Linked DNA regions of Homo sapiens. The protein of the gene in region 2 purifies or fractionates together with the protein of the main gene of each other region. This does not show direct contact. Each region holds a gene or a part of one and is shown on either strand. Other genes may lie near its edges.

Region 1 (3,100 bases), on a different chromosome or scaffold from region 2:
GAAGGGGCAGGGCTGTTAAAGGACTTTCTCCAAGGCCAAGTCTGCGTGGCTCCGGAGGCCACATTCTTTCCTGGGCTCTTTAAGGCTGTGAGGGGATGTGGGACCCCAGGAGAGGCTCTGGGAGTTCTGGGGAGGCTGGAACTGCAGGCTAGGTTGTCCAGGGAGGGTATAAAGAGGACCTGGGGCCAGGCGCAGTGGCTCACACTGGTAATCCCAGCACTTTGGGAGACCAAGGTGGGTGGATTGACTGAGGTCAGGAGTTCGAGACCAGCCTGGGCAACATGGTGAAGGTTGAAACCCTGTCTCTACCAAAATACAAAAAAATTGTATTGCTATGGTTATCACTAATGTATGGTGGTCCTGAGTGGAGAGTTCACAGGTCCAAGTAGACAGGCAGTGCCCCAGTGAAAGAAACTCTGGTTTAGAATCAGAAGTCCTAAGTTCAAATTTCACTGTGGCCACTTACTATTATCACTGTGTGAATCTGGGAAAACTGATGAACCTCTCTGAGTCAAATGGGGAAACCAGTGTGATGTGAGACTCAAAAAACACCGCATGCATAAAAGAACCCAGCACCTAGTTCAGCACGGAGGAGGGGTCAGCAGGTGTTCTGTGGTTGCTGGATTAACTTGAGGTGAAGATGTAAGACTTTGAGCAGCACGTCCTGATTGGATGGATTACTGCATGGAAACCTCGCCCAGCCCAATAAAGAAGGGCTTTTATTGTCTTTTTGAGACAAGGTCTCACTCTGTCACCCATGCTGGAGTGCAGTGGTGTGGTCTTGGCTCACTGCAACCTCCACCTCCCAAGCTCAAGTGATCCTCCTGCCTCAGCCTCCCTACAGGTGCACACCACCCTGCCTGGCTAATTTTTTGTAGAGACGGGGTCTCTGTATGTTGCCCAGTCTGGTCTTGAACTCTTGGGCTCAAAGAATTCTCCTGCTTCAGCCTCCCAAAGTGCTGGGATTACAGGCGTGAGCCACTGCACTCAGCCCACCGGAAGGGTCTTAATGACACAGAGTAAGGGCAGGCTGGGTCCATGGGGCAAATGTCTCTTCAACTGGTGGAGAAGTCAGAAACTGGGGGTCTGTGGTGAGGCATAGAGACCCTGCGAAAGAGAAGACCCTGGAGGCAGGAGGAGCCCAGGCTATGAGTCAGAGGGATTTTTGTGGGAGATTCCACATGAAAAAGAAGTCAGAGGCTGCCCCACCCTCTGTCTCAGACTGGTCCATGGGCTGTGGCCATCCTTGAATCACCATGAGAGATGGCCACATTGGAGGGAGTGGTGGATGTGGGTGACAGTATCCACCCTCTGGGCATCTGTCCCAAATCCTCCTGAGGCTTTCATGTGGCCTTCTGTGTCTCTGCCATGTTTTGTTTTGTTTTTTTTTGAGACAGAGCCTGGCTGTGTTCCCCAGGCTGAAGTACAGTAGTGTGATCTCAGCTCACTGCAACCGCCGCTTCCTGGGTTCAAGCAATTCTCCTGCCTCAGCCTCCTGAGCGGCTGGGATTACAGGCGCCCACCACCACCCCCGGCTAATTTTTTTTTTTTTGGATTTTAGTAGAGACAAGGTTTCACCATGTTGGCCAGGCTGGTCTTGAACTCCTGACCTCAGGTGATCCACCTGCCTCCCTGCCTCAGCCTCCCAAAGTGTTGGGATTACAGGCGTGAGCCACCGCGACTGGCCTCCTCTCTGCCTTTGACCTGAGAGTAAACCAAATCGCCTCCAGATCCGTGTGTTCAGTGCCAGACCTGACCCTTTTAACTGGCTCTTTTTTTTTTGGAAACAGGGTCTCACTCTGTCGCCCAGGCTGGAGCGCAGTGGCACAATCATAGCTCACTGCAGCCTCCACCTTCCGGCCTCAAGCACTCCTCCTGCCTCATCCTCTTGACTATCTGGGACAACAGGTACGCGCCACCACGCCTGGCTAATTTTTAATTTTTTTGCAGAGACGGAGGGAGGGTCTCACTTTATGGCCCAGGCTTGTGACTAGCTCTTGATGGAAGGAGGTGGCTTCTAGCTGGGCTGTGCCACCCCAGGCTGTGGAGTTCCAGGTGAACCTGGTCCTGACAGGAGTCAGGGCCTTGGGTCTCAGGTAAGGTTGTGGCGTGGACTTGCTGAATCCTATCACTGTCCCTGTTGAGCAGCCATACTGGGCCGTGTGGCCCACGGTGGTCTATGGTTCAGATGGGTGGTCCTGAGAGCAGGGTCTACACAGCATCTGACTCACTATGTGGCCTGGGCAAGTCCCTGGGCATCTCTGTGCCTCAGCTTCCCAGCTGTACAATGAGGTGGGGTAAGATTAGATCAGTATTTTTTCTTTCTTCTTCTTTTTTATTTCTTAGGAGACGGGGTCTCGGCCAGGCACAGTAGCTCACGCCTGTAATCCCAGCACTTTGGGATGCTGGGGTGGGAAGATCACTTGAGGTCAGGTGTTTGAGACCAGCCCGGCCAACATGGTGAAACCTCACTTCTACTAAAAATACAAAAAATTAGCTGGGTGTGGTGGTGCATGCCTGAAGTCCCAGCTACTCGGGAGGCTAAGGCATGAGAATTGCTTGAACTCAGGAGGCGGAGGTTGCAGTGAGCCAAGATCGCAAGATTGACTCCAGCCTGAGTGACAGAGTGAGACTCTGTCTTGAAAGAAAAAAAAAAAAAAAAAAGGCCGGTAGCAGTGGCTTACGCCTGTAATCCCAGCACTTTGGGGGGCCGAGGCAGGTAGATCATGAGGTCAGGAGTTCGAGACCAGCCTGGCCAATATGGAGAAACCCCGTCTCTACTAAAAATACAAAAAAATAGCTGGGCGTGGTGGCAGGCGCCTGTAATCCCAGCTACTTGGGAAACTGAGGCAGGAGAATCACTTGAACCCGGGAGTCGGAGGTTGCAGTGAGCCGAGATCACACCACTGCACTCCAGCCTGGGCGACAGAGTGAGACGCTGTCTCGGAAAAAAAAAAAAGAGATGGGGTCTCATTCTGTCATCCAGGCAGGATGGCATAATCATAGCTCACTGCAGCCTTAAACTCTTGGGCTCAAGTGATCCTCCAGCCTCAGCCTCCTGGGACTACAAGTGCCTACTACCATGCCTGGCTAATTTTTA
Region 2 (4,250 bases):
TAAGAATGCCTAACCTGGGAATGCAGCCGAGTATTTCTCAGCCTTACTTTATCCAGCCCATTTTCAAGATGGAGTCACTCTGATTCCAATGCCACTGACAATGATAAGCACTTGCCAGCAAAGAGGTGAACGCATGGATTTAAGGCACTTGAAATATCTCAGTGTAAAAGCACCCTGTGCATGTAGCAGGACGAGCCGCAGACAAAACCTCTCAGACACCGAGTTGCAGAAGGAAGGGCTTTATTCAGCTGGGAGCATTGGCCAGCTACTGTCTCAAAATCTGAGCTCCCGGAGTGCACAATTTCTGTCCCTTTTAAGGGCTCACAACACTAAAGATTTCACATGAAAGGGTCGTGATTGATTTGAGCAAGCAAGGGGTATGTGACAGGGGCTGCATGCACCGGTGGTCAGGGAGGAACAGAACAGGGCAGGGAGTTTCACAATGTTCTTCTATACAATCTAAGGAATCTATGAATAACATCGGCTTCTAAATCATAAGTTGATTTTTAACTACTGGGTTTAGGCCAGGCGGGCCTAGGCCTGGTTTCGGGCCTGGCGCGGGGTTGCCTGTCTTTGGTTTTACTTCCTTGTTGTTTTTACTGAATATAAAACAATGTGAGAGGGTCTCTCTCTTCTCTCATGCATACATACTCCATGTTTGAACACCGCAGCCATTGTCCTGTAACATAATAGCATTTGTCTCATTAGCTTTTTGATGTTGATATCAGATTTCTAGAGGAATCTGTAGGTTAAAGATATAAATAAAAGTGTTGCTAATGGGCTGAGAACGGTGGTTCACGCCTGTAATCCTAGCACTTCGGTAGACCATTGCAGGCAGATCACTTGAGGCCAGAAGTTCGAGACCAGCCTGGCCAAAATGAGGAAACCCCGTCTCTACTAAAAATACAAAAATTAGCAGGGTATGGTGGCACACGCCTGTAATCCCAGCTACTCGGATGGTTGAGGCACGAGAATCGCTTGAACCCGGGAGGCATAGGCTGCAGTGAGCCAAGATCACACCACTGCACCCCAGCCTGAGTGACAGAGAGAACTATGTCTTAAAAAAAAGACAAAAAAAAAAAAAAAAGGAAGAAGCCGAGCATCACAAATTCTGAAATAAGAAGTCTCCAAACACGCGGGCAATCAGTTGCACACAGTACCCCCAGAAATGTGCGTATGGCCTCTTCTAAGATGGGAGACCCTCCTCCGCATCTGGACCTGGAGTCGCCATTTCCTAGCGCCCCTCGCAGTGGAGCTTGCCCCTTTCTTCGGAAAGTCGGAAGAAAGCCACCTTAAGCGCTGCCCATGTCTGGGAACTACATTACCCAGAATCCGCCCTGCGAAATGGTAACGTGGCTGAGCCAATGAAGCTTCAGAGAAGCCGTGCCATTGCCGGGGCACGTAAAGTCAAGCCAGGACTTCCGGCGTCCTAGCCGTGGCAGCCATTTTGGCCTGTCAGGTCCATCCGGCGATGCTGGGTCTGGACGAGCTCGGGAGGAGTGGTTGTGGCCATTGCACACAGGCGGATCTGAGGTTCGGCGACGCCGCTGGTCGCGACCCGGGACAGGACAACGACAGGAACACCGCCGAGCCCGCGTTCCCCCCCCGCCCAGAGTCATGGCGGCAGCAGCCGCTCTGAGGGCGCCTGCTCAGGTGAGCGCTGCGACCTCCGGGCCTTACCCACCCTACCCACCCAGACCCTGAGGCCCCTGATCGTGAGGGCCGCCTCCTCGCGTCCCTGCAGCCCAGGCCTCTGTCAGGGACGGAGAGGCGCCGGCGGGTGGGATCCCTGTTTCCGACACCCAGTTGATGCGGTCGGCAGAGCGAGACTGGCGGAGGGCAAAGGCCTGCAGGCGCGACTGAGGCAGGAGGATGCGGAACACGGGGACATCGTGTGTCTACTGGGAAAGAAGTGTGATACGGAGTTATTTCTTTTTTTTTTTTTTTTTGAGACGGAGTCTCACTCTGTCGCCCAGGCTGGAGTGCAGTGGCGCGATCTCGGCTCACTGCAAGCTCCACCTCCCCGGTTCAAGCGATTCTCCTGCCTCAGCCTCCCGAGTAGCTGGGATTACAGGCATGCGCCACCACGGGGTTTCACCATGTTGGCTAGGCTGGCCTCGAACTCCTGACCTTAGGTGATCCGCCCACCTCGGCCTCCCAAAGTGCTGGGAATACAGGCGTGAGCCACCGCGCCTGGCCGAGGCGGAGTTGTTTCTTCAGTACCAGGCTGAGGGTTGAACTTTGACTGTGAGGACGCTAAAAGCCATGGACAGTTTTGAACAAAGGAGGAAATCTGTGTTAGAGTTGCGATTCCCAAAAGATGTTCGAAGGAAGAACAGAGTTGAAGGCAGTGATGAGGACATTGAGAGGTTGAATCATTGAGAGGTGACATTGAGCACTGGGCCACAAGATTAGAGACTCAGTCTGAAGTCATCTGGCTGCAGGGCCAAAAAAAGCTTACAGAGAAGCCTGAGTCTATCAAATCCGAGCACAGACACATTTGTGAAAGCCCTGCCTTTTGGCACACCTCATGGCTACAGAAGCACTTACAGAATCCACAGTAGGAAGTAGGGGATGCTCTAGTCCTTCACTGGTCCTCATCCTATCCCACATGTCTAGATCTTGGCATCTTTTTTTTTTTTCGGCGACGGGTTCTCACTCAACACCCAGGCTGGGTTGCGGTGACGCGATCACGGCGCAGCACGGCCTCGACCTCTCCGGGCTCAGGAGAGCCTCTCATCTCAGTCTCCCGAGTAACTGGCTTTTTGTATTTTTAGTAGAGGTGGGGTTTCACGGCCGGGCGCGGTGGCTCACGCCTGTAATCCTAGCACTTTGGGAGGCCGAGGCGGGCGGATCACGAGGTCAGGAGTTTGAGACCATCCTGGCTAACACGGTGAAATCCCCCCTCTACTAAAAATACAAAAAATTAGCCAGGCCTGGTGGCACACACCTGTAGTCCCAACTACTTGGGAGGCTGAGGCAGGAGAATCGCTTGAACCCGGGAGGCAGAGGTTGCAGTGAGCCGAGATCGCGCCACTGCACTCCAGCCTGGGCGACAGAGAAAGACTCCGTCTGAAAAAAAAAAAAAAAAGAGAGAGAGAGAGATGGGGTTTCGCCATGTTGCCCAGGCTAGTCTCGAACCCTTGGGCTCAAGCAGTCCTCTTGCTTCGGCTTCCCAAAGTGCTGGGATGCCAAGCAGGAACTACCGCACCTCCTAGGACACTTAAGTGCCATTTCTCCGGTCCTTCAATCTGGGGATCTTGGAAAAACCTCAAACCCCAAACCTACATCAGTGACATAGGTTATGGGGAGTTGTTGCTATGTCTGTCAACTAATGTAACACATGTGGAGGGTTCACCCAGGAACTGATACTGGGGTGTGCAAATACTTACTTAGAAGTGAAACTAGAGGGGTGAGGTGATGTTACCAATTTCTTAATAGGCGCTGTCTGGTTACTGAGTGGGCAACAGACTGTGGGGTTGAGGGAGGAGGAAGATCAAACTGGAAGCTACTGCCCTAGTCGAGGTGAGGATTAATGGACTAGAGTTGTGGCTTAGGCAATGTGGCTAGATCTGGATTTGTGTTTTTTAGAGGGGCAAGTCAATTTTTTTTTTCCCAAGATGGAGTCTGGACCTGTTGCCCAGGCTGGAGTGCAATAGTGGAATCTTGGCTCACTGCAACCTCCGCCTCCTGAGTTCAAGCGATTCTCCTGCCTCAGCCTCCGAAGTAGCTGGGATTACAGGCGCGCGCCTCCACACCCAGCTAATTTTTGTATTTTTAGTAGAGACTAGGTTTCGCCATATTATCCAGGCTGCCTCGAACTCCTGACCTCGTGATCCACCCGCCTTGGCCTCCCAAAGTGCTGGGATTACAGGCTTGAGCCACCGTGCCCAGCCTGGCAACTCAATTTTTAAATGTGAACAGTGAGAGCTTGAGAGGATTCAGGAAACACCCCTGGGTTTTTTATCTTAGCAGCTGTAGCAATGGGAGCTGCATCAACTGAGATGAGCAAGTTGATAGCAGGTGTAATATTCACTGAGGCTATCAGGAGGTTTGTTTTGGCCATTCTGCGTGGAAAAAAATACAAATTGCTTTTGCTCTGCTCTCCCCCACAACAATCAACACAGAGTACTTCTGTGACTAGATAATGTGTGGATGGTTTTCCTCATACACCAAGTAGTTCTGCAGTGGACATCAGATCCCACAGGGTGAAGTCTCAGTCCCACGGGACTGTCCGCCAACCCCTTTCG

The links. Proteins that work in one complex are often made in the same cells at the same time.
Region 1: the proteins of ZNF586 (region 2) and GTF2IRD1 purify together in Homo sapiens (affinity purification with mass spectrometry; one large-scale study listed by BioGRID and IntAct). This does not show direct contact.

The regions. Positions count from the first base shown.
Region 1 is NC_000007.14:74,596,906-74,600,005, reverse strand, and holds part of GTF2IRD1 (general transcription factor II-I repeat domain-containing protein 1), read right to left. Parts: intron 1-3,100. UniProt on the Homo sapiens protein: May be a transcription regulator involved in cell-cycle progression and skeletal muscle differentiation. May repress GTF2I transcriptional functions, by preventing its nuclear residency, or by inhibiting its transcriptional activation.
Region 2 is NC_000019.10:57,768,226-57,772,475, forward strand, and holds the start of ZNF586 (zinc finger protein 586), read left to right. Parts: upstream 1-1,450; 5' UTR 1,451-1,617; coding exon 1,618-1,653; intron 1,654-4,250. UniProt on the Homo sapiens protein: May be involved in transcriptional regulation.